Homo sapiens: one gene and its partners. The protein of the gene in region 2 purifies or fractionates together with the protein of the main gene of each other region. This does not show direct contact. Each region holds a gene or a part of one and is shown on either strand. Other genes may lie near its edges.

Region 1 (7,613 bases), on a different chromosome or scaffold from region 2:
GTGAAACCCCATCTCTACTAAAAATAAAAAAAATTAGCCAAGTGTGGTGGCACTCGCCTCTAGTCCTAGCTACTTGGGAGGCTGAGGCAGGAGAATTGCTTGAACCCGGGAGGCAGAGGTTGCAGTGAGCCGAGACCACACCATTGCACTCCAGCCTGGGTGACAGAGTGAGACTCCATCTCAGAAAAAAGAGCTGGGCACAGTGGCTCATGCCTGTAATCCCAGCACTTTGGGAGGCCAAGGCAGGTGGATCATCTGAGGTCAGGAGTTCGAGACCAGCCTGGCCAACATGGTGAAACCCCATCTCTACTAAAAATATAAAAATTAGCCAGGCGTGGTGGTGCATGCCTGTAATCCCAGCTACTCGGGAGGCTGAGGCAGGAGAATTGCTTGAGCCCAGGAGGCAGAGGTTGCAGTGATCCAAGATCATGCCACTGCACTTCATCCTGGGCGACACAGCAAGACTCCGTCTCCAAAAAAAAAAGAAAAAAAGAAAAAAAAAATCAGCCAGGCTTGGTGACAGGCACCTGTAGTCCTGGCTACGTGGGAGGCTGAGGCAGGAGAATCGCTGGAACCTGGGAGGTGGAGGTTGCCGTGAGCTGATTGCACCCCTGCACTCCAGCCTAGACGACAGAGTGAGACTCCGTCTCAAAGAAAAGAAAAAAGAAAAAGAAAATATAGCCTTGCTCTTATGTGTAGGTAACTTGACCAGCTGGCAGAATCTTCATCAGATTCTGTTACCTCTGGACAGAATACTAATAATAAAAAATCATAGCACTAAATAATCTCCTGAGTGCTTACTATGGACCCAGCCATTTATTGTCTCTTAACCTTCCAACAGTGCTCTCCTTTCATTACAACCCATTATGCTTTGTGTTGGCCTACTGGATTTCTTTCTGGTGTTAGCCATTAACCCATGAAGGATCTGGATAATGTGGATGTAGATGACTAGAGTTTCATGCTTTTCATGTTAAATGGTTGAAAACAGTGGGAAGAGGAAGGTTAGAGAGAACATGAGAAATATCCTTTAAGTATCTGAAGGGCTGATATGCTGTGGAGAGACCCTGGACTCATTCTGGGCAATTCCTTCAAGCTGTGAGGTCCATTATGGTAGGGAACTTGTCTATTTTGTTCTCCAGTACATTTCTAGCACTTAGCACAGTGTCTGGCAGATAGTGGGTGACAGGTACTTTCTTTTTTTTGAGATAGTGTCTCACTTGGTTGCCCAGGCTGGAATGCACTGATGCGATCTTAGCTCATGGCAGCCTCTGCCTCTCAGGTCAAGTGATTCTCCTGCCTCAGCCTCCCGGGTAGCTGGGACAACAGGCACGTGCTACAACACCCAGATAATTTTTTTATTTTCTGTAGAGATGAGGTTTCACCATGTTGCCCAGGCTGGTCTCCAACTCCAGGACTCAAGGGATCCACCCGCCTTGGCCTCTCAAAGTGCTGGGATTATAGGCGTGAACCACTGCTCCCGGCTCATACCTGTTATTGAGTGGAGGGATGAAGAAATGAACATGTTCTGCATTGCTCCAGACTACAAGAACTGGAACAATGGGCAGAAGGCATGGGAAGTCCTGTGTAGTGTATCGGGCTGACTTCCCAAGCCCTGAATTATCTGGCTCCATGACAGCTGAGGCCAGGGGACACTGGCTTTGTATTCTTGCATTGGCTAGAATTTTGGCCACACCGGGTGATTCTCCCTTCTTACTCTGAGATGCTGGGCCCCTGCCTTGCATTGACAGATGGAAACTATTTTTTTTTTTTTTTGAGATGGAGTCTCGCTCTGTTGCCCAGGCTGGAGTGCAGTGGTGCAATCTTGGCTCACTGCAAGCTCTGCCTCCCGGGTTCATGCCATTCTCCTGCCTCAGCCTCCTGAGTAGTTGGGACTACAGGTGTCCACCACCACGCCCGGCTAATTTTTTGTATTTTTAGTAGAGACAGGGTTTCACCGTGTTAGCCAGGATGGTCTCAATCTCCTGACCTTGTGATCCGCCCACCTCGGCCTCCCAAAGTGCTGGGATTACAGGTGTGAGCCACTGCGCCCGGCCGACAGATGGAAACTATTTACACAAAACCATTCCTTGCGGGCAGTCAGATGGGGTCTTAATGCTTATTTTTAAAAAGAGCCTTTTTCTGGTGTTAGGAACTACTTGTTGACTATTTTTCCTGCCTACCCAAGTAGTTCTCTAAATCTAAAATCCAGTGATAGCTTGCCTTATTTAAATGCTTGTTTTGGCTGGGAGCAGTGGCTCACCCCTGTAATCCCAGCACTTTGGGAGGCCGAGGTGGACGGATCACCTGAGGTCAGGAGTTTGAGACTAGCCTGGCCAACATGGTGAAACCCTGTCTCTACTAAAAATGCAAAAATTAGCCGGGTGTGGCGGCACGTGCCAGCTACTCTGGAGGCTGAGGCAGGAGCATCGCTTGAATCCGGGAGGTGGAGGTTGCAGTGAGCTGAGATCGCGCCACTGCACTCCAGCCTGGGTAACAGAGTGAGACTCTGTCTCAAAAGAAAAAAAAATGCTTGTTTGAAAAGATGCAAGTTTCCCTGCAAAAATAGGTGGGAAGTAGGCGCTAAGGCAGCACATTATCGTGTAGAGATTTTGGAGACACAGGCTTTGGAGCCACACCTAAGTGCAGTCTTGCTGTGCCACTTACAAGCTATAGGGTCTCGGACAAGTCTCTTTCCTTCTCTATTCTTGTTTGCTCATTTGTAAGAAGAAAGGGGAGGCCAGGCACCAGGCCATGGCTCCCGCCTGTAATCCCAGCACTCTGGGAGGCCGAGGTGGGTGGATCACGAGGTCAGGAGTTCAAGACCAGCCTGGCCAAGATGGTGAAACACCGTCTCTACTAAAAATACAAAAAATTAGCCAGACCCGGTGGCAGGTGCCTGTAATCCCAGCTACTCGGGAGGCTGAGGCAGAGAATTGCTTGAACCTGGGAGTCAAGATCAAGCCACTGCACTCCAGGCTGGGCAACAGAGCGGAAAAAAAAAGAATAAGAAAGGGGATAGGCAGAAGTAATAGAAATTTCATAGGGCTGTTATGAAAATTAAGTGAGCAAAATTTGTTGTTTAGCCAGCACTTACAAAATCGCTAAGGAACTGTATTTTTTTTTTTTTTTTTTTTTTGAGACGGAGCTTCGCTCTTGTTGCCCAGGCTGGAGTGCAATGGTGTGATCTCAGCTCAGCGCAACCTCCGCCTCCCAGGTTCAAGCGATTCTCATGCCTCAGCCTCCTGAGTAGCTGGGATTACAGGCATGCACCACCATGCCTGGCTAATTTTGTATTTTTAGTAGAGACGGGGTTTCTCCATGTTGGTCAGGCTGGTCTCGAACTCCCGACCTCAGGTGATCCGCCCGCCTCGGCCTCCCAAAGTGCTGGGATTACAGGCGTGAGCCACCGTGCCCGGCCCAGGAACTGTATTTAAAGTACACACACACACACACACACACACACACAGAGACAGAGAGAGAGAGAGAGAGAAACTGAGCTAATTCGAGGCAGTTAATAGTGAATGGTTGAAGGTGACTGTTATTATAAAGGTTGTATCACATTTCTGTGTGATCCAAAGACTGCCTACATCAGAATCGCCTGAGATTCTGGGAATCACTGAGCCCCTCCCTGCCTTCCTCCCTGGACTACCCAATCATAATGTCAGAGTTCCCCAAATAATTCTTATGTGCACTAAACCTCTCAGAGCTCTTGGTGAATGACTTTCAGTGATTGGTGTGCAAACTACAGTAGATAGATAAGTTTGAAAGCACATCTTAGCCCATGCTGCGCCAAAGCTCTTTCTTTCTCTTGGCAGGTGACATGAAATGGCAGAAGCTAAATCCCACTGGGGCTGCTCCAGCAGGCTGTGCTGCCCACTCAGCTGTGGCCATGGGAAAACATGTGTACATCTTTGGTGGAATGACTCCTGCAGGAGCACTGGACACAATGTACCAGTATCACACAGGTGAGCAGGTGTCCATGGGGGATCTTTAAACAAATCTAAACATTCTTTGAAACGTGATGCGGTGGCTCACGCCTGTAATCCCAGCACTTTGGGAGGCCGAGGCAGGCAGATCACGAGGTCAGGAGATCGAGACCATCCTGACCAACATGGTGAAACCCCATCTCTACTAAAATACAAAAAATTAGCCAGGCGTGGTGGCGGGCGCCTGTAGTCCCAGCTACTCGGGAGGCTGAGGCAGGGGAATTGCTTGAACCCAGGAGGCAGAGAGGTTGCAGTGAGCTGAGATCACACCACTGCACTCCAGCCTGGTGACAGAGCGAGACTCTGTCTCAAAAAAAAAAAAAAAAGAAAGAAAGAAAAAAGTGATGCAGTGCTTCCAATTTGGTTCCTCTATATCTAAATCCAAAAGAATGAAAACTCTGTAGGGGATGACATCAGGAAAGCAGCAATGCTGCCATAAGGTTTTTTTCCTTTTACTCCTGTTTGTTAGGACTCGGCTGCTACAGTAAATCACTGAGCATTTCTAGAAATTTCATTACTTTTTAAATTTTATTCAGATTTTGGCTTTCACTATCTGGAAATTGTTTTTTTTTTTTTTTTTTTTTTTGTCTGAGATGGAGTCTCACTCTGTCGCCCAGGCTGTAGTGCGGTGACGTGATCTTGGCTCACTGCAAGTTCCACCTCCTGGGTTCACGCCATTCTCCTGCCTCAGCCTCCCGAGTAGCTGGGACTACAGGTGCCCGCCACCATGCCCAGCTAATTTTTTTTTTGTATTTTTGGTAGAGACGGGGTTTCACCGTGTTAGCCAGGATGGTCTCCATCTCCTGACCTCGTGATCCACCCGCTTCGGCCTCCCAAAGTGCTGGGATTACAGGCGTGAGCCACCGTGCCCGGCCTATCTGGAAATTTCTTAACATGAAGCCTTTTCCCTCCCCAACATAGAAGAGCAGCATTGGACCTTGCTTAAATTTGATACTCTTCTACCCCCTGGACGATTGGACCATTCCATGTGTATCATTCCATGGCCAGTGACGTGTGCTTCTGAGAAAGAAGATTCCAACTCTCTCACTCTGAACCATGAAGCTGAGAAAGAGGATTCAGCTGACAAAGTAATGAGCCACAGTGGTGACTCACATGAGGAAAGCCAGACTGCTACACTGCTCTGTTTGGTGTTTGGTGGGATGAATACAGAAGGGGAAATCTATGACGATTGTATTGTGACTGTAGTGGACTAATAAAACCCACATTTTTATTACCTGTCAGTTACTTTCAGAATAGTTAAGTAAAACATTAGCTGTTTTATACCTCCAAAATATCTTCTGCATTATATATCTGTTTTTCTCCTACTTTGGTAGGTGAAGAAACTAATGCAAATAATTCTTATGTGCACTAAACCTTGCTATATTGCCTCTCAGAGCTCTTGGGAATGACTTTCAGTGACTGGTTTGCAAACTGTGGTAGATAGATAAGTTTTGCCCAATGCAAAAACCTCCACTGCATTAACATAAAAGGCTTTGGGCCAGGCTTGGTGGCTCACGCCTGTAATCCCAACACTTTGGGAGGCTGAGGAGGTGGATCACCTGAGGTCGGGAGTTCAAAACCAGCCTTACTACCATGAAGAAACTCCGTCTCTACTAAAAACACAAAATTAGCCGGGTGTGCTGGCCCATGCCTGTAATCCCAGATACTCAGGAGGCTGAGACAGGAGAATCGCTTGAACCCGGGAGGCGGAGGTTGCGGTGAGCTGAGATCACACCATTGCACTCCAGCCTGGGTGACAAGAACGAAACTCTGTCTCAAAAAAAAAAAAAATATATATATATATACATATATACACACATATATATGTATACATATATAGTATATTTATATGTATACATATATATGTATACATATTTATATATACATGTATTTATATATGTATACATAAACACATATATATGTATACATATATATATATATAAAAGGTTTTGCCAACAATACAAACCTAGGTAGGTGTGATTTGTGTATTAAATGCTAATCACAAAGTTGCAATATGGTTAGGGTTAAAAAAGAAGTTGCAGAATTATAATTGGTAAACAACAAACTATAGACATCAGACACATAGTTGAAGTCTATCTTTTTAATATTCAGTAACAGCTCCTCAGAAAGAGTTACAGACTAGGTGGTCCACGGTAGTGAGAGCCTTTGAGGTAAGGGAAGACTAGCCCTAGTTGCTAACTACCATTTAACCCTATTGCCCCAGGGTACACAGCACTGTAGGTCATCTTTAATGGCTGTATTGGGCTTGGCCTGAGACCAGTATTCTGCTCAGGGTCTGCCCAAATGCTTTTCGGGCAGTGCAGCTGAGGCCTAGGTCTAATTAAGAGTTTGGTGTTGGGATCCAGTTCTACTAGCCCTAGAGAATTAACCTTTCAGCCAGTTGCCCATCTATAAAATACCTATCCTTGGGCAGTATTGGATTCTTTTTTTTTTTTTTGAGGTGGAGTCTCACTCTTGTCGCCAGGCTGGAGTGCCGGGCTGGAGTACAGTGGTGTGATCTCGGCTCACTGCAACCTCTGCCTCCCGGGTTCGAGTGATTCTCCTGCCTCAGCCTTCAGCTTGCACTACCACGCCCAGCTAATTTTTGTATTTTCAGTAGAGATGGAGTTTCACCATGTTGGCAAAGATGGTCTCTATCTCTTGACCTTGTGATCCACCCGCCTTGGCCTCCCAAAGTGCTAGGATTACAATATTGGATTTTATGTTAGCACCAGCCTGTCCTTTATTGATCATACCATTTACCTGGACTCTTTTCTTCAGGAACACAATCTAAGTAATCCTAAACCAGTTTTGACACAAACCATTGCCTTTAACAACCCATTCATAGTGAGGGGATTTAGTGTAGTTTCAATGTCACCATCCAAGATCCCACCCCAGTACCACTAATGAGAAATTTCAGGGATGGAGATTCTGACACAGCTAGGGTTCACAATATACCTTTACATCCTAAAGTTACAAATGAAATCCAAGTGTATAAAGTTAATACCAGTGATCACTCACTCCCCATCATTTCTCAGAGAATCCAAGCAGCTATAAAAGCATCATTAGTAATAATTTTAAAAAAAGCCACCAGAAAGGCAGTTTTAGAAAGATAAGGGGAAATAGGAAACCAAGTATGTTCAAGAAAACCCCACTCTTGGGCACTGTGAAATGCCCCTTGCCTGAGTAAAGATGTGGATTAACTTCTCTCCCCTTTTCTTAGATTAATGCAAAAGCCGAGCATGGTGGTAACAAGCCTGTGGTCTCAATTAGCTGGGAGACTGAGGTGGAAGGATCACTTGGGCCCAGGAGGGTTAAAAAAAAAAAAAAAAATCCCTGGAAGCATTAAATAGAAGTGTTTCCTTATCCCAACATACCAAATACTCCCTCCCCTCACCCCACACACGAGTATCTAGTCTTAAATTTCCTAAAATAAGTAATTGATCTAATTAGAAGCTTCTCACAAACATTAGACCAGTGTAAATAACAAACATTTATTGGTGTCACTTATGGTAGAAAAAACTTCCTACACCAGATGCACATGACCCAGTTGTTAAATAGAACATTTTGAAGGTGAACACACACCCTAACCCAGGTTTTTTACCCGCTTTTTAAGATGGCCAATTC
Region 2 (6,874 bases):
CAAATTATCAAAACTGAGGAGGGGGTTGTGGGAACTTCCAAATTTGGGCTGGTCAGAAGTACAGGTGACAAGCTGGGACCTAGAACTGGTATCTGAAGCAGGGGCAGTCTGCTGGGACTGAGCCCTTCACCTGCAGGGACCGTGCTAACTCTGGGTAGTGAGTGTCAGAACTGAATTTTAGAACAGCTGGCTGGTGTCTGGAGAGTCGGAGAATTGATGTGGGCGCCCCCCTCCCCACTAACATTGGTGTCAGAAGTACTGGGAATGTAGAAAGTTTTTCCTTGTTAGGTATCCAAAAAGATCTCCCACACCTGGATCCCATGGAAGGCAGCTGGGAGGGCAGGAGGTGGCTGGCTTCAGAGAGCCAAGGAGGTCTGGGAAGTCAGGAAATGGGTGTGTGGCTCAGCAGTCAGGGGCAGCGGCACCCTCTTCCCCAACTTCTTCAACCAAACACATGGTTGGGCCACAGCACCACATGGATGAAGGTGCCACCACCAGCCCTGAGAGTCACCGACATTCGTGCAGAGCTTCCCTGGTGTTGCACCAGGATGCAGGACCAGCGTCACGGACTCCAAGCCGGTGTGGAGTAGGAAAGCCCTGGGCAATCCGTCAGTAAGGTCCTTCCAGCCTGGGCTGGAGTCATATCCTCAGCCCCACTTTCTCCAACTCTTTCCTGGAAGCCCAGAGGTGCCACACACAGCTGCTGGCCACACACACTCACATAGTCCCCAGGGCCCTGGCTGAGGCTGGGGAGACCCCTATTGGCCACAATGTGGGGATGAAGTTCCCACCCTGCACAGTCACTGTAGCAACCACCCTGTGCTGAGAACCACACTCCAGGGACCAACATGCACTAGAAAAATGTCACACAGGAATACACACTCAGAGGGCACTCGAGAAACATTTATTGAGCACCTACTATGTGCCAGGCCCCAGGCAGGACACTTGGAAAACAAAGTCAATACAACCTGGTCCCTGCCCAGGAGCTCACAGTCTAGAAGGCCAAGCCATTAATCATAGAACAGCAAAGGGGCATTTGGCTTCACAATTTTACAACAAACTTTTACATACGTTTTCTCAAGTGTAAACACCCAGCAACACAGCCATGTTGTTTTAAAAGCACATTGGCATAAATGTAAACACAAGTCACAGGATTGAAAGGATGAGAGAAAACCATTTGCAGTATTTGTGCTTGCAGAACCAGATTTTTAGCATTATTTATTCCCTCCTATCAGGTAGGATACAAGTTTTGCCAATCTGTGGATAATGGTGTTTGAGACATGGGAGTTCCGTGGCCGGCCTGCCTGCCTGCCATCATGCAGTGGGGGAGCCACACTAGATACAAGGCATCCTGAAGCCTTGGCCACTGCCTTCTGTCCACCACACCTGTCTTTTAATGTCCCCTAGACAAAGACCCTGTATATTTCTAGGCTCCTCCTGAGCTTATCAGATGGGGAGAAGGGATCATGTCCCAGGAGCCCACCAAGTCGTGAGATCCCTCATACCTGGCTTGGCACATGGTGACACCCCATCAGGTGAGCACACAGCACACGCTGCCCAGGCCCAGACCCTGCCTGCCCGAGATGAACTTCCTGGTTAGTCTCAAAATCTGGCAGTGTTGGCCGGGCACAGTGGCTCACGCCTGTAATCCCAGCACTTTGCGAGGTCGAGGTGGGTGGATCACCTGAGGTCAGGAGTTTGAGACCAGCCTGGCCAACATGACGAAAACCCCATCTCTACCAAAAAATACAAAAATTAGCCAGGCATGGTGGTGCACGCCTGTAATCCCAGCTACTCGGGAGGCTGAGGCAGGAGAATCGCTTGAACCTGGGAAGCAGAGGTTGCAGTGAGCCAAGATCGCAGCCTGGGTGACAGAGCAAGACTCCAACTCAAAAAAAAAAAAAAAAATGTGCCAATGTCAGCGTCCTACAGGAATAGCTGCCCTCCAAGTCCCACCTGTGCCCCCACTTCTCCTATGTGCACATTTGTCAGCATGTGCAGAGGTATACAGTCCTGCTTACCACACCTGCCATGGGCTCTAAACAGGACAGTACAGCTGGGGTTTGAGAAGGGGCTGCCTGTGTGCTCCATCTCACCAAAGGGAAAACCACGCACAGATCTGGCCCCTGTTGGTTTAGTTTAGGAAGGTAAGGAATCCGGTGAAGAGACCAAAAGTGGCCTCCTCATGATCCAGGGAATAGGGGAAACCAGCAAGTGTTTGGGTTTAATTAAGCCAAGGGTTGGGGGGGATGAAGGTGGACAGCTGAGGGTGCAGGCCTGTAGGGCTGGAAAAGGCGGGGCTGAGTTTAGGACCCCTGTGCCCCTCACCATCATACGGAAAGGGAGGAGAGGCATCTTTCTACCTGCAAGCTGGTTACCGCCATTTCACTTTAGAAAGCTCAGGATAAGCCGGGCGTGGTGGCTCACGCCTGTAATCCCAGCACTTTGGGAGGCTGAGGCAGGTGGGTCGCCCGAGGTCAGGAGTTCGAGGCCAGCCTGACCATCATAGTGAAACTCTGTCTCTACTAAAAATACAAAAAATTAGCTGGGCATGGGCATGGTGGTGGGTGCCTGTAATCCCAGCTACTAGGGAGGCTGAGGCAGGAGAATCACTTGAACCCAGGAGGTGGAGGTTGCAGTGAGCCGAGATCGCGCCACTGCACTCCAGCCTGGGCAGCAAGAATGAAACTCTGTCTCAAAAAAAAAAAAAAAAAAAAAAAAAGAAGAAAAGAAAAAGCAAGCAAGCAAGCAAGCAAGCTCAGGCTAATTCCCAGCTCCCTGGTTGTGAGCACCCCTGGGCTTCTACAGTGACCTCTTTTGGGCAGAGGCCTACCAGGTGAGCCAGAAGGTACAATGTTAAAGAAAATTGTTTCTGACCCCCTTTCCAGAGCAGAGAGGAAGGGAGGGGGTGAGACGCCCACAGGTGACTGATAGCACAAGTCAGCCCTCGTTCCTGGGCTCCACAGAGGCCTGCCCTGGTGCTGTCCCACCTTCAGGAGAGGTGGCTCCCTGGCTCCCCCCAGGACCATCTTCCAACCCTCCTGCCCCTCAGGGTTGCTCTAGGTGGCCAGGTATCCTGCTAGCAAACCCTCTCCCCCAATGATGGCCCAGACGGAACTCTTAATAAAAAAAAATAATTTATTGTCAACAAAGGTGATATATACAACAGGAAAACAGATGTAAATGAGAACGGGAGTGAATGGGGTGCCCAGGCCCAGCTTCAGGCCTCTGCAGGGGTGGGACAGGAAGAGGTAATGGAGGCCTCCTGGTTTAGAAGCCTGAACAAGTGGGGAGGAGAGGTGTCCCCCGAGGTAGTGGGACTCAGTTCAAACCCCCTTATGACCACTCTTGTGTAAGGCACTGTGCCAAGGGAGAATGGTGGGGAGCAGGGGGAGGGTGGGAGGAGGTCATGGGGGACAAACAGAGGTGGGGGTCAGCGAAGGACTGGGGTAGGTGTTCTCCACAGGCCCAGTGCCCTACTGCACAACAGCCTCAGCCACCCTCGCCGACCTCAGGCCTGGCCAGGAACAGACACTTTCCAGTGCCCCGAAATAACAGTGGATGCTGCCCCAGCCCCCTCCTGCCCTGGCACCTGTTTCTACTCTCTCCACCAGGTGGGTGAGCCAGGCAGCTCTGAGTTATAAGCCACTGGGGGACGCTGCCTCATCCCTCCCTCCCTCCCCAGGAAAGCAAGAATTTACACTCCATTCCCTTTTTCCGGCTTCCCTGCCACAGTGGTGCTGGATTCTGACAGAACTGTGGGCCAGTCTGAGGTGTCACCTGCTCCCACACGCTTGGTGCCCTGGGGGTGCCTGGACCAGTCTTGCAGGAGGCTGACCGCTGGGGGCTCCTCCATCCGCACGCGGATAACCTGGAGATCCAGTGTCCCGCGGAGCCCCGGAGGGGGAGCTGGGCAGGGATGAGAGCAGAGAGCAGTCAGAGCCCCCCAGACACCCCACCACGAGGATGCCCCCTGGAAGCTCCGCAAACTGTACCCACATTTCCAGGGCTTTCATTATGTCCACAGCCCAGTGCCTGGCATGAGGGGAAGCCCAAGGATGGCAGGGAGCTCCACTCCTGGGTGATCGAGGACTGCTGCCAGCTAGAAAATGAGGCGCACAGCCTCCCTAGGGACAAGCCAGCTGAAGCCAGGCAGCCTTCCTCCTGTGTGTATTTTGGCACAGGGACGCCTGGTGCTCGTGCCTCTTCCTGTAACTCCTACCTGCAGCCAACTCCATTTTATCTCAAACTTACTGGGCATCCTAGCCTAACGGGTTCTGCCTGAGTGGGGCAGAGGTGATGGGGTGGGAACACCCAGAAGCAGTCTAAGGCATAGCTGTGCCCACCAAGGAGCTCATGAGGGACTACGTGGGGGACAGAAAAGACCCCTGGCGAACTTCCACCAGGCTCTTTATCTCCTGAGTGTCAACACCTACATCACCAAGACCAGGTGTCCACCTTACCAGTATGGAGAAGGCACTCATAATGGGCAAAGCTGGGCCTCGAGGCAGAGGAAAGAGGACTGAGGACTGCCGTGGCTGCGTGCAGCCATAAAAAACGAGCACGCAACAGGGACGTGTGCAAAGGTTACGTTACATTAGGGCTGGGCATGATGGCTCATGCCTGTAATCCCAGCACTTTGGGAGGCCAGGGTGAGCAGATCACTTGAGGTCAGGAGTTTGAGACCAGCCTGGCTAACATGGAGAACCCCTTTACTAAAATACAAAGAAATTAGGCAGGCATAGTGGTGCACCCCTCTAATCCCAGCTACTCAGGAGGCTGAGGCGGGAGAGTCGCGTGAACCTGGGAGGTGGAGGTTGCAGTGAGCCAAGATCACGCCACTGCACTCCAGCCTGGGCAATAGAGTGAGACTGTCTCAAAAAAAAAAAAAGTTACATTACATTGAAAGGCAAAAACAGAAGATGGTGATTTCAACTACTGCACTGTCTATATTGGGAAGGATTTATTTGTGTGTGTTCCTTTTCTACCCTGTTTTTAGAGACACGATTATTTAAAATGTGGCACAGAAAACAGGTACAATTTTGCTGTGCGATGTGCTGGAATTTAAAATGACTTAGTGGCTGCCACCCCATTTTTATCACCTACCAAATGCTATTCTGTGTTCCCAGAACACAGTTTGTCTCCCTGATAAACTATAGGCTCCCTGAAGGAACACTGAACCCCATTTGTTCATTAATTTGACAATAATTTATTGAGTACTATATGCCCAATGCCGTTTGGATTGCTAGGGGTACAGCGGTGAATGGAGCTCCCTAAGTGGCCTTCTGGGACTTCACATTCTATTTATCAGAGCTAATAAATAGGATAAACAAATAAAAAATGCAGTATGTTATATATGGACAGATGCAAAGTAGCAAAGTACACCAGGGAAAGGAGATAGGATAATAGGATAGCAGAAAGCTGACAGGGGACCACAGACACAGAGGGAGTGAGGAGCCAGTGAGGCAGACAGGGAGGGAACAGCATTTTGAGCAGAGGGAGGAGCAAATGTGGATGCCCTGGTGGAGCACGCTGGCTTCCCCAGGAACAGCAAGGCCAGTGCCTGTGCGGGGAGCGGGATGTGGGGGGAGAGGTCAGGAGCCTGTGGGGAGCTCACTAGTCACCATGAAGGCTCTGGCTTTTATCTGGAGTGCAACAGGAGCAGCACAGAAAGGCCATGAGTAGAGGAGTGACTGGATCTGACTTGTGTTCTCAGCAGGGACACTCTGGCTGCTACAGGAGAGCAGAGCATAGCGGGCAAAGCTCAGCAGCCAGGAGACCTGGCTTAGGTTTGTTACAGGAACCAGGCGAGAGCCGGCCCTGACTAGGGTAGCAGCAGTGGATGTGGTGACAGCAGTGTGAGCTCTGAACTTGTTTTGGAGGATCGGCTGCTGGACAGATGCTGGGCTGGAGAAAGAAGAGGATGACTGTGTGGGTGTGGTCACAGCAAACTGAAGCCTGGGGCTGCCTGTTCACTGGGAAAGGGAAGATTGTGGAGTCTAGGGGTAGGGTGCATTGGTGAGACTGGGGGTTCAGTTTCAATGTGGCGAGTTTGAGATTTTTTTTTTTTTTTGAGATGGAGTCTCGCTCTGTCGCCAGGCTGGAGTGCGGTGGCACAATGTTTGAGATCTTTTAGACACCCATGTAGAGACGCCACCTGGGCAACTGGAAAAGAGGATGGAACCAGGAAGGAGCAGCCAAGGTGGGCATTATGAGCACACACATGTCATTGAAAGCTGTGAACCTGGATGAGATCTCCCAGGGAGCGAGTACCGACACTGACCCACGGCTGCGGATACTTAAGCACGTACTCATTCACCAAACACATAAGCCGGGCCTACGCTGTGCCAGGCACTGTTCTGGTTACCGCAGATATTATAGTGCAGGACGCAAACACCCTAACCTGCAGGCCCTTACATTCTAGAAAGGGAAAGGCAGACAATGATACGACGTGTTCCAACTCTGGGAGCTGAGAGTGAGCGGCAAGAGAAACTGAGAAGGAACAGTTAGTGAGGGAAGAGGAACACCAGGCGAGCAGCTGCCTGAAAAGCCAAGGGAAGAAAGTTGTCTCCAGGAAGGAGTGAGTGATCAGCCCACCGTAACCACGAGATCATAAAGAGAAGGACCGGCCAGGTGCAGTGGCTCATGCCTGTAATCCCAGCACTTTGGGAGGCCGAGGTGGGCGGATCACCCGAGGTCAGGAGTTTGAGACTAGCCTGGCCAATAGGGTGAGACGCCATCTCTACTAATAATACAAAAAAATTAGCCAGGCGTGGTGGCGCACGCCTGTAATCCCAGCTACTCAGGAGGCTGAGGAAGGAGAATCGCTTGAACTTGGGAGGCGGAGGTTGCAGTGAGCCAAGATTGCACCACT
Region 3 (7,993 bases), on a different chromosome or scaffold from region 2:
GCTCTCAAGGCAAGAGGTAAAGCAGCAGTCAGGGCGAAAGGCTGGGAGACACGTGTCTCTGCGGGAGGGCTGCCTGGAATTGAGGCCTTATTACTGGCTCTAGCCAAATAGGAGAAAACAGGGAGTTTCTCGAATTAGTTCATGTCCCATTTGGGTTACCCAGGAAGGATAGTCTGTGCTATTGTCCACAGAGTCAAGGCAGGCCAGAGAACTGGCAGACAAGCCCAGCTCCAGAAGCCAGAGTTACTGCTGTAGCTGGACCTGGAAACCACTCCTCAGCTGGACCAGTCACTGTGTGTGGGGCCTTTAATGGGAGGGGAAGGGAAACTATGAAACACATCCTAATACCATGTAAGGGTGATGACTGTGATTAGAGACATTATTAGATGGCGGATACACAGAATCCTTAACTTTTTCCAGACCGTGACTTAAAAAAAAATTGTCATTGTTTCTTTTTGGCAATTACTTGCCATCAATACAGTTCAAACAGGCCCTAGCTGACTGGGATGGGCTGGTGCAGGACTTTTGGTTTCTGTGGGATGTCCTGGTGTAGTCCGTGTCATGTTTTTAGGCATTTCTCTCTATTCCCCTGGGATGAAAGGACAGGAATTTCAAGATATTTCACCTGCAATGAGTTCCTGATTTTATTTTCAAACAACGATGCACCATTATCTGAAAGCAGGCTAACTGTTGTGCACTTGCCAGCCTCGCTCTAATCCTTAAAGGCCACACACCACAGTCATTCTTAATCTGCTGCTGCAGCTACCAGTCACTCCATGATGGAGCATCAAAAGATGGATAATGTAGTTACTCTGCTCTGTTCCTTGCATGGGGTGGGTTAAACAGAAGTGAGGTCTGAGTAATGTACCAACATGTCGGATAGAAAGGTTCTTAACTCAGGGTTACTCATTTTTGGAAGGTGTAGAGACAGGAAATGTTAAAGCCTGCTTCTCCTGGGATTAAGGAGTTAGTGACTTTCAAATGCTCTGAAAAGAAAAAGAAGAGGAGAAGACAGTCATATCTGCAGGCATTCTTCAACAGGCATTCAGAAAGATTATGGTGGGGTAGTTTGTCTAAATGAAATCTTTGTTTTACACGTTGTAGAATGGAAATCTCAGGAATATCCTGAATTCAAATCATTTTTCTTCTGCAGGCAATTTTAAATTAGCTTCTAAAAACATATATGAATTGCAGGCAACTGCTGCAGAAAAAAAAGAGTGAACACAGATGAGGCATATTCAACTTTAAATTCCTTTCAGATCCAATGAAATGACCCCTAATGTTTGATCACATTTCCTTATCAAAACAATCCTGCAGTCTGAAGGATTTTTCCATGAGAAAGTGTCTGAGGACTGGAATCAAGAAGCTGCCCCCCGGGCCTCTCCTGTTTCTTCCCAATGCGTTGTCACCAAGATATTTTTAGTTCATGAAACTCAGGCTGTCCTTTCTCCCACTTATGGTCTTTGCCTCCCGTGCCCAGCAGGCCTCCTAGAAGCACACATGTGCTTGGCTGTGACTACTCAGCTCACTCTGTAGCTGTGTGTGCACGCCTTGTGTGTGTGTGTGTGTGTGTGTGTGTGCACACCTTGTGTGTGCACAGACCTTCCCGGATACCAGGAGTTGTAGACTGGCTGAAGAAGGGTGGGCTTCCATCCATGGGGTGATCCTTAGGTCTGTGCTGGTTTGGCTTGGTTCCCTGATAAGGCAGCTGAACTCAAGCCCTTTAGGAGGGCCAGGACTGACCGGAGCTCCCAGCCTGTGCCCCTCTCCTCGCACCCCACAGGCCGCACCCCACAGACTGAGGCTGCCTGGGGTCTTGGCAGCTCCCTCAGCAATGAGGGATACTTGCTCTCCGCTGCCTCATTGTTTCCCTGCAGTCAGGATGCCAGTGTTTTTTCCCTTTCCCCTTCCCAGAGTCAACAGGTCTCCCTCCCCGCTCTGAACTCTCTTCCTACTCTGAGCTGTCTGTCCAAACTCTTCCTGGCCTCCCAGCTTACCCTATGACACTCTTACCTTTCACCTATATTCATTCTTTCCCTTCTCTTCCAACTGCCCCTTCTCATACCCAGCACTACATACAAATTACAAGTAAATAAGTGTCTCTCCTACACCAATAAAAGGCAAATACAAAAAAATCCTTCAGCGTTTCCCCACTTTCCTTACTTCTCTTCCGTTCTCCTTCCTTCCTTTCTCTCCCTTCCTCTTCCTCTCTTGGTTTTTCCTTTCTACCCCTTCCTCTCCTTCACTCCGTGGCTGTGGCTGAATTAGGGATCACACATGTGCTTAGAGAAACCATCTTATCTGAAGAAACAAAAAAACAAAAACCAAAACAATGACAACGACAGAAAAAAAAAAAAAACATGGGCTGGTTTGAGGTTGTTCTCTAAATGTTTATTATAACTTCTAATGTGATGGAGTCAGTGTGTTCCCATTAGTCCTTCTCCTCCTCATTTAGTAGCTCAGAGGAGTCCCAGAGCAAACTTCCTCAAATCAGGTCGGTTCATACTGCACTGCCTTCAGCCTGATGTGAGTCTTACTGTGCTGGGTTTATGTCCAAGGGCCAGTAAATATTCCCTTCCTTCCAGGGCTCACCACTGTTTCAAATCCTCTGGCAAGCCCAGTGGAAGAACTTCTCTGTATGGGAAATTCAGCAAGTAAACTTGGAAGTATTTGTTCATTGGAGTTTGAATCTGAGCCAAACAGTTCACTCAAAACCAACCTTCCACTCAGCAAACCAGTGTTATGAAAGTTTGCATGCATTTGGGCAGGAAACAAAGGACATTAATGAGTTTAAAGATTTTTTTTTAAATCCATGACTTTTGGACATTTATTAAAAAGATTACTCTCTGGGGAATGAAGTAAGGCCTTGGGAATCTTGTAATTGAAAGTTTCTGATCCGAAGTAGATCTCAGGATCCTCCCAGCTGTAAATTTATAGATTTCTTTTTAATGTCCACCTGAAATATTCATGCTGTGTGTCTCTAGGACGCTTCAAACCTATTCCTGACTCAAAGAAAGCTTAAGAAAAAATCCAAGCAGTTGTGATCACCAAGGCCTGATTATGGAGGAGCTGTTAATATGGTTTATTAATTACTCAGGCTGCTCACTCCTGTCCTTCCTCTGTTCCTTGCTGTGCTATTTGTCTTCTTCTGGGGACATAACACCTTCATTAAATCCCATCCGTCCTTGCCTTAGAGTTGTCCCCTGGAAGATAGCTCCCCTCTAGATGCATCACCATTTATCATCACCCTTTGTTGGTGCTCTGTCAACCAGTTTTCAATTTATTTTGAATTCAGTTAATGATTAAAATTTAATGAGATCCAGTCAAATGCTTTTCTCAAATCAAGATGCCTCTGCAGCCTCATCTGTATCCTCTTGTGATGGCGTGAAGGAAAGCCATGGCAGATTTCCAGCCTGGTGATGCTGTACAGAACACAGGTGGCCTGCTTCCATGCCTCCTCAGCTTCAAGGTGAATGGCTCTGAAGCATATTTATTACAGAATCTCCTAGGGGTTATGTGGCTTCCCCATCCCCTTTCTTCCCTCCCAATAGCTGAACCAGTCAGTGCTCCCAACCGAGATGCAAGCGGTTAAGTGCACAGGATCTGGTGCCAAACCGCTTATATTTGAATCACAGCTCTGCTACTTAATAGCCATGTGACCTCGGAAAAGTTACTTACCTTCTCTATGCCTTGCTTTTCCTGTCTGTAAAATGAGTCTGACAATAGTACTTAGGAAATTAGAGTGGGTGTGAGGATTAAGTAAGTTAATATATCTATCACACTTGGAACAGCATTTCCCACGTAGTCACCATTCAATAAATATTAACAATGATTGCTAACAAAGAGTAAAGTTCCTTAAGTATGTCAGTTTCATTAGGTTTGTATTTTGGCTTATCAGTGTACAATCTATATCAACAGTAAACTACAACCCTAGAGCCAATGGTTACCATGACCTGTTTTTAGCACCAGCCTGTTGCTCAGAATGGTTTTTATATGTTTAAAGGGTGTCTTTTCTTAAAAAAAATAAAAATAAAAAAGGAGCAGAATATGAAACAGACACAGCATGTGGCCCATAAGGCTTAAACTATTTACTATCTGTCCCCTTTGCAGAAAAAGTTTGCCAACCCGTGATTTATATGGTTTAATGGAAAGAGCTTGGAGATCTAAAGGCTTGATTTGGCTTCACCCATCACTTGTTAAGTGACTATGGAAAAGCTTCTCAATGTGTCTAAGCCTCTGTAAAACAGGAATGGCAAAGTGGTAACACGTACCCTGCTTATGGCCTAGGCTTGTTTTAAGGACCAAACGAGATGATGTGTATCAAATGTGCCGGAAATGACTCATATATACACGTTTGTTAAAAAGATATGGTCTCTATACATTAGCTTCATAGAATAGTATTAGCACCTGGGTGTAAAACCAGGGAATACTGTTTTTAAAAAGAGAGCTCTGAAGCCAGATAATAACTGCAGTTGTCGTTGCGGTAAAAATAACAAAATGGCCATTGCTTTTTAAGAGCTTGATATGTGCCAGGCTCTACATTCAACACTTTATTTACATCTACTCTTTATCCTCACCACACCCCTATGGAGAAGTGTTGCTATTTTCCCTATTTTGCAGATGAGAAAAGTGAGGCCCAGAGACGTTAGGTAACTTTGTCAAGATCACAAATCTAATCATGCAGCTAGCCGGCACAGGGAGAATTTAACCCTAGGGAGTCTGAACCCAGAGCCTGTGCATTTAAGTATTGCATATGTTCCCACATCCTAGGAATATGTGTTGATTTAGGGTAAGCCCATCTGGAAGGCAGAAGCCACTGTTCACTGTGGATGTGGGCATGAAGTCTGTTCATGTGTGCCCTGGGAGAGACTTGCTTCCCACACAGGCCACGGTGGACTCTAACGGACCTGAAGAAAGGGAGGCAGGCATGATGGGAGGAAAAGCTTTTTGGTGAACTCTGAGATCAGAAAGGTAGCGCTGTGAAGACTAATAGGCTCTGTTTCAAAAAACTAGTAAGTTAAGGAAGATTGTGCTAAAAGAGGAAAAGATTGCTGGGAACAGACATGAGCAAACAGTTGGAGGCAGCTCAAGGGGCTTGACTGAGAGCTGTGTACAGAAAAAAAAATTAAAAAAGAGAGAGGGTGAAGCATGGGAAAATCTGTCACTGGGACACCAAGGGAGCATTGTCACATGGACAGCAAGGGAGCATTGTCACATGGACATCAGGGCTGCTGACATCTGGATGTGACATTATTCGCAAAACTAGGCAGCTCGGGGCAGAGTAGAGAAGCCCAGAGAAAGGTATCAGGCCCGAGGAGGCAAAAAGGAAGACAAAGCAAGGGACCTGGAGAGAGAAACTGACATATTTGAGGGAAGATGCCCATCAGATCCAAGAGCTAGAACCACAGCTCACAGTCCAAACGGTGATGAGAGTCCAGAGATTAAAAGCTACTGTCAGGCTGGGTGCAGTGGCTCATGCCTGTAATCTCAGCACTTTGGAAGGACGAGGCAGAAGGATTGCCTGAGCCCAGGAGTTCGAGACCAGCCTAGGCAACATGGCGAGACTCTGTCGCTACAAAAAAAAAAAAAAAAAAAAAATTAACCAGGTGTGGTGGTGCATGCCTGTGGTCCCAACAATATGGGAGGCTAAGGTGGGAGGAAGACCTGATCCCAGGAGGGCAAGGTAGTTGTATGTCCCTGGGAATCACCTCTGTACCCAGCTCATGCCCACCCATGCTTACCCCAGGCACATGTTCTCACCCTCTGCTGAAAGGTTTTTGATATTTGAAGAGATATGTTCACTGTCTCCTGGGCGGTGTCATGAGTTCCTCATTCGCATTGGTTCTTAATCTTTGTGAGCATCAGAATCACTAGTGGAGCCTTTCCTTTTCATTTTTTATCTTTTAAGTCAAAATAGATGCACTTGTTACAAAACTTAAATAGTATAAAATGTTCTGAAAAGCAAACCTCTTTCCTACCCCATTCCTAGCCATCCAATTCCCTTCCCAGAGGCAACCACTGTTCCTCATTTGAGATGGCAGATATACGACCTTATATCATACAAATGATGGCATACCCTACACACTGTGCTACTCTTGAATTTTTTTAACTTAATAAATCTTAGAGATAGTTCCATTTCAGTTCACACAGCCCTTCCTCATTCTTAAAGGATGTGGAGTGCTCATTGTACAGATATACTACAGTTTTAAAAATCAGAACCTTTAGACATGTGGGTTGTGTCTGGTCTTCGCTATTATAAACACTGCGGCGTTGCCTGTCTTCGTAGCCTCTTCATTTCATACAAGATATACATATCTCTGCAGGGGAAATTCTTAGAAGTGAAATTACTAGGTCAAAGGGCATAAGCTTTTAAAATTCTGATAGTTATTGCCAAATTGCACAGATCACATTTCCCTTGGCAAAGTATGAGAGAACCTGTTTACCTGTGAGACTTAAACAAAAATACACTAGTATTTTACATACAATAAACAAAAATACTCAGAGGCCCTGGGTGTGGGGCCTGGGCTCTGTATTGGGAGCCTCAGAGAGGGGTTCTGAGCCAGGAACTCTCCTGGGCTTCTTCGCCCTCCAGCCCCGCTCTCCCCCCAGGATTTGCTGATGAGCCTGAGATGACCCAGGGCACTGCCAGCATGGGGGCTCCCAGGGTCCTAGTTGGCAGGTCTCCTGTTCCCCTGAGGAGTCAGTGCTTGCTCCCTGGGTCATGGCTGGAAAACAGGGCTTTTCCACTTCAATCCAGGCACCGCCCTCTGGTAGAGACTGGAGCAAAGGTCATGCCAGAGTTACAAGCACGTAAATATGGAGAAAGCCTGGAAAAAAAAAGGAAAAACAGAAAAATGGGTCGGGTCAGAACAAGCAAGAACCAGGCTCACATGCACAGCTGTTCCATCCAGTTATATGTCCCCAGGACTCACCTCTGTCCCCAGTTCATGCCCACTCGTGCTTACCCAGGGTACATGCTCTCACCCTCTGCTGAATGGTTTTCTTTGTATTTTAAAAATACAATGGTGAGATACTGAGTGATTGCTTTTTAATGTTTAGTATTTTTACACTATGGACATTAAAGACAAAACAGATAAAACTGCCATCCTTGACATAACCCATTAATCTGTCTGTGGCCCCCTGATGTGGCATTTGTAATTGTTCTCTATGACTGCCTCAGGAGAGTTGGCAGGGTTGCCCACTTTCTGCCAGTTCAGACAGGGGTCTGGGGCTGGAGGGGGCCTGTGTGGTAGTGGCAGGCGTGCCCCACCCTTTTCAGTTCTAGGTGGAGCTCTGCAGAGGCACAAAGACCAGCAACTCCCTGCCTGGAATCTAAGAGCAGATGCTCCCATTACACTGGCTGATGGCATCACCTTTATTCTGCAAGTAAGGGTTGTGGTCAATCCTGCCCATGGGCAGGACCTTTGGGCATGGCCCAGACCTAACTTGGGTGCTTGACACATAGTGGGCACTTAATAAATGTTCTGGAGAGGAAAAAAAAAGAAGAGGGAAGGGTCACCCACGTGGCATAATTTTAAGAACTCTGAGGACCAGGCCCACCAGATACTCCTTGCTACCCAACATTGTTGTTGACAACATTCTCATTGTCACTGATCCGGCTACATGGACCTGTCTGTCCCCTCTCTGAAATAGGCATCAACTATTTATTCATTCAGTGAATCTTTATTGAGCACCTACTATGTGCCAGGTGCAGTTCTAGGTGTTGAGAATATAGCTGTAAACAGAACAGTCAAAAATCATGCCCCCAGGCCAGGCGTGGTGGCTCACTTATAATCCCAGCACTTTGGGAGGCTGAGGTGGGAGGACTGCTTGAGGTAAAGAGTTCAATACCAGTTTGGGTAGCATAGTGAGACCTCATCTCTACAAAAAAATTTTAAAAGTCAGGCACACCGACTGGCGCAGTGGCTCACACCTGTAATCCCAGCACTTTGGGAGGCCGAAGCGGGCGGATCACCTGAGGTCAGGAGTTTGA
Region 4 (7,993 bases), on a different chromosome or scaffold from region 2:
AATAATAAGAGCTATTCATGACAAACCCACAGCCCATATCATATTGAATGGGCAAAAACTGGAAGCATTCCCTTTGAAAACTGGCACAAGACAGGGATGCCCTCTCTCACCACTCCTATTCAACATAGTGTTGGAAGTTCTGGCCAGGGCAATCAGGCAGGAGAAAAAAATAAAGGGTATTCAATTAGGAAAAAAGGAAGTCAAATTATCCCTGTTTGCAGGTGACATGATTTTATATTTAGAAAACCCCATCGTCTCAGCCCAAAATCTCCTTAAGCTGATAAGCAACTTCAGCAAAGTCTCAGGATACAAAATCAGTGTGCAAATATCACAAGCATTCTTACACACCAATAACAGAGAGCCAAATCATGAGTGAACTCCCATTCACAATTGCTTCAAAGAGAATAAAATACCTAGTAATCCATCTTGCAAGGGATGTAAAGGACCTCTTCAAGGAGAACTACAAACCACTGCTCAAGGAAATAAAAGAGGATACAAACAAATGGAAGAACATTCCATGCTCATGGATAGGAAGAATCAATAACGTGAAAATGGCCATACTGCCCAAGGTAATTTATAGATTCAATGCCATCCCCATCAAGCTACCAATGACTTTCTTCACAGAATTGGAAAAAACTACTTTAAAGTTCATATGGAACCAAAAAAGAGCCTGCATTGCCAAGTCAATCCTAAGCCAAAAGAACAAAGCTGGAGGCATCAAGCTACCTGACTTCAAACTATACTACAAGGCTACAGTAACCAAAACAGCATGGTACTGGTACCAAAACAGAGATATAGACCAGTGGAACAGAACAGAGCCCTCAGAAATAATACCATACATCTACAACCATCCGATCTTTAACAAACCTGACAAAAACAAGAAATGGGGAAAGGATTCCCTATTTAATAAATGGTGCTGGGAAAACTGGCTAGCCATATGTAGAAAGCTGAAACTGGATCCCTTCGTTACACCTTATACAAAAATTAATTCAAGATGGATTAAAGACTTAAATGTTAGACCTAAAACCATAAAAACCCTAGAAGAAAACCTAGGCAGTACCATTCAGGACACAGGCATGAGCAAGGACTTCATGTCTAAAACTCCAAAAGCAATGGCAACAAAAGCCAAAATTAACAAATGGGATCTAATTAAACTAAAGAGCTTCTGCACAGCAAAAGAAACTACCATCAGAGTGAACAGGCAACCTACAAAATGGGAGAAAATTTTTGCAATCTACTCATCTGACAAAGGGCTAATATCCAGAATCTACAAAGAACTCAAATTTACAAGAAAATAAAAACAATCCCATCAAAAAGTAGGTGAAGGATATGAACAGACACTTCTCAAAAGAAGACATTTATGCAGCCAACAGACACATGAATAAATGCTCATCATTACTGGCCATCAGAGAAATGCAAATCAAAACCACAATGAGATACCATCTCACACCAGTTAGAATGGCAATCATTCAAAAGTCAGGAAACAACAGGTGCTGGAGAGGATGTGGAGAGATAGGAACACTTTTACACTGTTGGTGGGACTGTAAACTAGTTCAACCATTGTGGAAGACAGTGTGGCGATTCCTCAAGGATCTAGAACTAGAAATACCATTTGACCCAGCCATCCCATTACTGGGTATATACCCAAAGGATTATAAATCAGGCTGCTGTAAAGGCGCATGCACACATATGTTTATTGCGGCACTATTCACAATAGCAAAGACTTGGAACCAACCCAAATGTTCATCAAAGATAGACTGGATTAAGAAAATGTGGCACATATACACCATGGAATACTATGCAGCCATAAAAAAGGATGAGTTCATGTCCTTTTTAGGGACATGGATGAAGCTGGAAACCATCATTCTCAGCAAACTATTGCAAGAACAAAAAACCAAACACCACATGTTGTCACTCATAGGTGGGAATTGAACAATGAGAACACTTGGACACAGGAAGGGGAACATCACACACCGGGGCCTGTTGTGGGGTGGGGGGAGGGGGGAGGGAAAGCATTAGGAGATATACCCAATGTAAATGACGAGTAAACGGGTGCAGCACACCAACATGGCACATGTATACATATGTAACAAACCTGCATGTTGTGCACATGTACCCTAGAACTTACAGTATAAAAAAAGAAATGTTGCAAGACCACATATTTTTTTCATTTCTTTCTGGGACAGGATTAGAGGATCTGGAAGTCTCTGAAGCCCTTGGGGGATGGGGGTGGGAAAGTCAGGGGAGGGAGAGAGACAGTGCCAGGCTGGGGGTAGTAGAGCTTCGCGGTGGGGGACAGAGCCCAGGTCAGCCTGCCACCACCTTCAGATCCTGGCTTGCATTTACCGTCTGCGCAACTTTAGGCAAGTTATCAAACTTCTCTGTCCCTCAGTTTCCTCCCAAGGATAATAACAGTGCCTACCACATCAAGTGAATTAAAACACTAGAGCGTTGAGAACAGTGCCTGCACATGGGGGTGCTCTATTAATGTTAGCTGCTTGCCAAGCACTCTGTGTGACCTTTGGCAATTCATTGGCTTTCTGTCTTTAATTTCCACAAGATGGATACATTTAAAAATTAAAAAGCAACCCAAAAACTTAGCTAGGCATGGTGGCTCTTGCCTGTAGTTCCAGCTACACGGGCAGCTGAGTAGGAGGATCTCTTGGGCTCAAGAGTTCGAGGCTGCGGTGAGCTATGATCACGCCACTGCACTTCAGCCTGGGTGACACGGCAAGACCCTGCCAGGCAGTGTAGAAGAGGAAAACCTTCCTGAATTCAAAGTTAGGCCCCCCCTCCGCTGGCTCAGGTAGTTCAGACCATGAACAATCATTGATACCTTGTAGGCGAACTCCAGCTAGGCAGTCAGCTCCATGGGAAAGAAGACCTCTACTCCCAGCAGGGCCTGAGGTATAGTAGGAGCTCAATGAATTCTTGTTGAATGAATAAATCAATTTAGTACTGTGAGCTGGATGGAGATGCATGATAATAGATTTCCTCATCCAACATTCCCAAATATTTGGGGATTTTCTACTTGTTCTTTTATTAATGGTTTATAGCTGAATTCTGTTGTAGTCAAACAACATATTCTGCATAATATCATTGTATCTTAATATCTTAATATGTTTGTATCATTATATGTTCCATGTGTCCCTGGAGCATAGCTGCCTTCTGCAGTTGCTGAGTACAGTTTATAGAAACTTGTGAATTAGGTTAAGTTTGTTAATTATGTCATTCACATCTTCAACCCCAGGATTTTTCTGTGTCTTCTATCCGTTACTGACAGAGGTGTGTAAAAATCTCCCACTCTGATTATGAATTTGTCTATTTTTTCCTTTTAGTTCTATCAATATTTCTTTTATATATATTGAAGCTATGCACGTACGTTTAGAAGAGTTACATTATCCTGGTGGATTGACTTTCATTATCGTAAACTGTCCCTTTTTGTCTCTGGTAATGTTTCTTGTGTTAAGGTCAGCTTGATCGTACAAGTTTCCCTCTGGTTAATGTACGCATGGTATATCTGTTTCCATCCTTTTACATTAAGCCTCTGTGTCTCTTCTAAGAAATATAAAGCTGGATTGGGCTGGGCGTGGTGGCTCACACCTGTAATCCCAGCACTTTGGGAGGCTGAGGCGGATGGATCACTTGAGGTCAGGGGTTTGAGACCAGCCTGGCCAACATGGTGAAACCCCATCTCTACTCAAAATACAAAAATTGGCCAGGCGTGGTGGTACATGCCTGGAATCCCAGCTACTCGAGGGGCTAAGGCAGGAGAATCGCTTGAACCCAGGAGGCAGTGGTTGCAGTGAGCTGAGATCGCGCCACTGCACACTCCAGCCTGGGCAACAGAGCAAGACTCCATCTCAAAAAAAAAAAAGAAAAAGAAATGTAAAGCTGAATTGTTTTGTTATATTCGTTCTGATGATCTTTGTCTTTTAATTGGAGTATTTATTTTATCTAATGTAATTACTGATATATTGGAGTTTAAACCCACCATCTAATATTTTTTCTATTTGTAACAATTGTTTTATGTTACTTTTTATTTGTTTTATTGCTTCAATTTTGGATTAATCAAGTATTTTTTAATTCTACCATTTCTCCCCCAAACCCCCTTATTAACCTGTTAGTTGTACTTTTCTTTCAGTATATGGTTCTTACAATGATTCCTATAAAGATTACAACATGCATTTATTAGACTTGCTAAAGTCTAATAGACAATAGTACTTTTACCACTTCCCAGACAACACAAGAACCTCAAACCACTTGAGCTCCATTTAATGCCTTCCTGCCTTTCGTGCTGCGCTTGCCATGCATTTTTTTTTTTTTTTTTTTTTTTTTTTTTTTTTTGAGACAGACTCTCACTCTTTCGCCCAGGCTGGAGTGCAGTGGCGTGACCTCGGCTCACTGCAACCTCCACCTCCTGGGTTCACGCCATTCTCCTGCCTCAGCCTCCCGAGTAGCTGGGACTACAGGTGCCCGCCACCATGCCCGGCTAATTTTTTGTATTTTTAGTAGAGACGGGGTTTCACCGTGTTAGCCGGGATGGGCTTGATCTCCTGACCTTGTGATCCGCCCGCCTCAGCCTCCCAAAGTGCTGGGATTACAGGCGTGAGCCACTGCACCCAGCCAGTTGCCATGCATTTTAATCATACATGTATTTTAAACCCCACAGGACATTCTTCCTGTTTTACACACTCGATCTTCATTGAGATTTACCTACATCATTTCCTACTTCATACTCTTCATTCCTTCCTACGCCTCCTTACTGACATCTGGGATGATTTTTCCTTTTGCCTGAAGAATTCCCTGTAGTATTTCCGTCTTGTGGGTATTCTGGTGACAGACTCGCTCCTCTTTTGTTTATCTGGGATGTCCTTATTTTACCTTCGTTCTCTTCACTGGGCACAGATTCTAGGCAGACTTATTTTTTTCCGCCCTTTGAAAATGTTGCGCTGTTGAAGTCTTGTCTCCTTATTTGTGTTGAGGGGACCAGCTGTTAGTCTTTCTGCTGCTCTTTCTAAGGTAACTCAGCTCCTCTACCCTGTGTTTAAGATTTTTCTTTCTATCTTGTCTTCTCTGCAGTTGGATTTCGATGTGCCCAGATGTGGTTTTCCTTGTAAACTATACTGTGTGGGCTTGATGTCTTTTGTCATTCTGGAAAATTCTAGGCCATTATTTCTTCCATTATTTCCTCTGCACATCCTTTCTCTCCTCTTCTTTGGGATTCCATTTATGGGAATGTCAGACCTTCCTATGCCCTGGCTTCTAGAGTGCAGCTCTTCAGGAATGCATCTGAGAGCCTGGAGCTGTTTAACAGGTCCCTTTGTCCTTGGCAGGTTCTGAACTCCCGGTCTCCCCAGTCCCTGGAGGCTGCCTGCAGCTTTGCTTAGCTTCTCAGCCTGTTGATCACTGCCGTGGAATTGGCGAGTATCTTCCGGGGGAAAGCAGAGACAAAAGTGAGCCTCACCTCAATGCCCTTCCCATCTCTCTGGATTCTTGGTTCCTTCAGTCCTTGGTGCCTCGGTAGCTTTCTCGTGTCTTCGAACATATGTTTTTAATATTTTACCTTCCTTTTCTAGTTGTTCTTGGCAGGTAGCTTTATCTACTGCAAGGTAGCCTGATACATCCAGAGGCAGATGTGTTGCTGAGCAGAAATGACAAAGAGGTGGTTTCTGTCCCTTGGGCCTGAGGGTCCGGTGGCAGAGCCAGACATGACAACAATGTAAAGCACCAGCAAAATGTGATGTCAAAGGGAAGCAGAAATACATTCAATCTGATAGGAGGACCTAGGAAGGTCTCTGTGAAGAACAGGAAGGATTGCACCAGGTGCCATTTGGAGGGGAGGGGAGGGGATGGAGGCGCGTTGTTCTAGGTGTCAAAAGCTGAAGCTGGTATAGGCTGATATGATGGGATGTGTGCCATGGGCAGGGCTGGGGTGAGAGAAGGGAGACACCGTCGTGGGAACCGAAGCAGGGAAGGTAGGCACGTGCCACACATAAAGGCTTTTGTATCCAAGCTGAACCAGGACTTTTTATATGGGATGGCACATTGGGAGTGACCCATTCTGGCTTTGCTTGCAGTAACTGTGCAACTCTGGCAAAATCTCTAACCCTCTCTGGTTCTTGATTTTGTTGTAAAATAAGAATCCTAATAATACCTGCCTCTTCTACTCCCCAAGGTTCTTGTGAGGCATAGGTAAGCTTGAGGATGCAGATGTGCTTTGATGGGAATGATGAGTGGCCAGGACCCTGATTCCCTTCAGAGCCACACTACTAGGGGGTCAGGCTGTGCGTTGGTCCGTTGGTCAGGAGCTATCACAGGAACCCTCCATCACTTTCTGGCCTTGTTTGTTAGTCACAGGATGAGCATGGCTGGCTCTCCGGTGACATCAGAAAGCTTTCCAAAATCCTCAGTTCTGACTGTCCCCCAGGCTCTAACATCTCCACCCCAGCATCCTCTTCGGGGCACTGAGCACTGCTGGTCACCCAACAGACATGGAACTGCCTCACTCCAAGGCAGATCATCCCTCCATGGGCAGCTCTGGACAGCTCTGACTACAGGAAAGTTAGCCAGTCCTTCCTCAAAGGTAGTGTGCCATGACCAGAAGAATATGATTAGCCTACTCCTCTGCATAGGGTTAAAATAAAATACCTTATGCCCCCACCTAAGCTTCCACCTGCTCATCCTGGTTTGGGGCCCTGCATGTTTCTCCACAAGACACACGTGTGCTCCTTTTAAAATCGTCTCCTCTTTTCTCTGAATTACGGGAGGACCAAGATACACGAGGTCTCTTGCTACATGATTTCACTCGGGAATTCTTAGAGGTAGGCTCCACCAGATACGATGACCAGGACCTTGAGGATTTTAAAACTCATTTAGCATTGCAGCCCTCAAAGCTGACGGGAAAATTATAATTCATCTAGCAAATGTTCCTGTAGTGTTTTGGGGTGCCATTCATTTAATGGAGGGTGGGTGTGTTGAACATCCTGCCCTCACCCCTTCAGACCCGCTCCTTCTCCACCGGCCCCCATGTTCCAGGAGGCTGTCCCACACGGGCTCCCTCAATGGGCTCAGCTCCCTTGCCAGTGGCTTCGAGTTGAAGGGGGCTGGGTTTGCCTAATAGGAGGCACCAGAATGATTCAAAGACGGGAGGAAAGGGAGTCAGGTATTTATTCTCCCTCCCATGTCCCCGCCGTTGCCATGGGTTGGCTCTGAGACCCTCCAGTGAGGGCCACAGCTCCTAAGAGACAGCTCCCTCTGCCAGTCTCCAGTTCTCACCCCCGCAGGCTCCCTTCAAGCCTAGGGTGGTCACAGCCCCCTCTGAGTCGCCAGCCCTAGGGTGTGACACCGGCCTTTGTTAGTTCTGCAGAACTCTGCCGGCATGTCCGTAGTCTTAAAAAACTCTCCTTAAATTAAGTTGGAGTGTGTTCTGTTCCCTGCCAGGAACTCTACTGGAAAAAGCATTCTAGAGAGATGACAAGGCAGTAGGTAAAGGAGGTGGGACCTCCCAGCCCTGCATGGTGGAAATGTAGGAGTGGGGCTGGATTGGCGTCGAGAATGGACGAGCTTTCCATATTAAGCCAAGGGGTATGAAATCGCTGGTTCTCTATGTAGGTCTCCGTAGCCCCACGTTCCCATCCTAACGCATCTCTCCTCTCTTCCAGAAAGCTCCTGCTGCTTCTGTACCCCGCCTGTCCCTCCCAGCTGCGCAGGGCCCCTTCGTGGGATCATCAGCCCGAAGACAGGGATGGAGAGGCCTCTGTGCTCCCACCTCTGCAGCTGCCTGGCTATGCTGGCCCTCCTGTCCCCCCTGAGCCTGGCACAGTATGACAGCTGGCCCCATTACCCCGAGTACTTCCAGCAACCGGCTCCTGAGTATCACCAGCCCCAGGCCCCCGCCAACGTGGCCAAGATTCAGCTGCGCCTGGCTGGGCAGAAGAGGAAGCACAGCGAGGGCCGGGTGGAGGTGTACTATGATGGCCAGTGGGGCACC

The links.
Region 1: the proteins of SPINDOC (region 2) and RABEPK purify together in Homo sapiens (affinity purification with mass spectrometry; one large-scale study listed by BioGRID and IntAct). This does not show direct contact.
Region 3: the proteins of SPINDOC (region 2) and TRAF3IP2 purify together in Homo sapiens (affinity purification with mass spectrometry; one large-scale study listed by BioGRID and IntAct). This does not show direct contact.
Region 4: the proteins of SPINDOC (region 2) and LOXL2 purify together in Homo sapiens (co-immunoprecipitation; one study listed by IntAct). This does not show direct contact.

The regions. Positions count from the first base shown.
Region 1 is NC_000009.12:125,228,781-125,236,393, forward strand, and holds the end of RABEPK (rab9 effector protein with kelch motifs), read left to right. Parts: intron 1-3,815; coding exon 3,816-3,965; intron 3,966-4,907; coding exon 4,908-5,200; 3' UTR 5,201-5,381; downstream 5,382-7,613. UniProt on the Homo sapiens protein: Rab9 effector required for endosome to trans-Golgi network (TGN) transport.
Region 2 is NC_000011.10:63,823,963-63,830,836, reverse strand, and holds the end of SPINDOC (spindlin interactor and repressor of chromatin-binding protein), read right to left. Parts: exon of another isoform or gene 5,190-6,874; intron 3,910-5,189; coding exon 3,698-3,909; coding exon of another isoform or gene 3,664-3,697; 3' UTR 3,121-3,663; downstream 1-3,120. UniProt on the Homo sapiens protein: Chromatin protein that stabilizes SPIN1 and enhances its association with histone H3 trimethylated at both 'Lys-4' and 'Lys-9' (H3K4me3K9me3).
Region 3 is NC_000006.12:111,596,672-111,604,664, reverse strand, and holds part of TRAF3IP2 (E3 ubiquitin ligase TRAF3IP2), read left to right. Parts: intron 1-2,369; exon of another isoform or gene 2,370-3,450; coding exon of another isoform or gene 3,451-3,469; exon of another isoform or gene 3,470-6,827; intron 6,828-7,993. UniProt on the Homo sapiens protein: E3 ubiquitin ligase that catalyzes 'Lys-63'-linked polyubiquitination of target protein, enhancing protein-protein interaction and cell signaling. Transfers ubiquitin from E2 ubiquitin-conjugating enzyme UBE2V1-UBE2N to substrate protein.
Region 4 is NC_000008.11:23,368,106-23,376,098, reverse strand, and holds part of LOXL2 (lysyl oxidase homolog 2 precursor), read left to right. Parts: intron 1-7,664; 5' UTR 7,665-7,747; coding exon 7,748-7,993. UniProt on the Homo sapiens protein: Mediates the post-translational oxidative deamination of lysine residues on target proteins leading to the formation of deaminated lysine (allysine).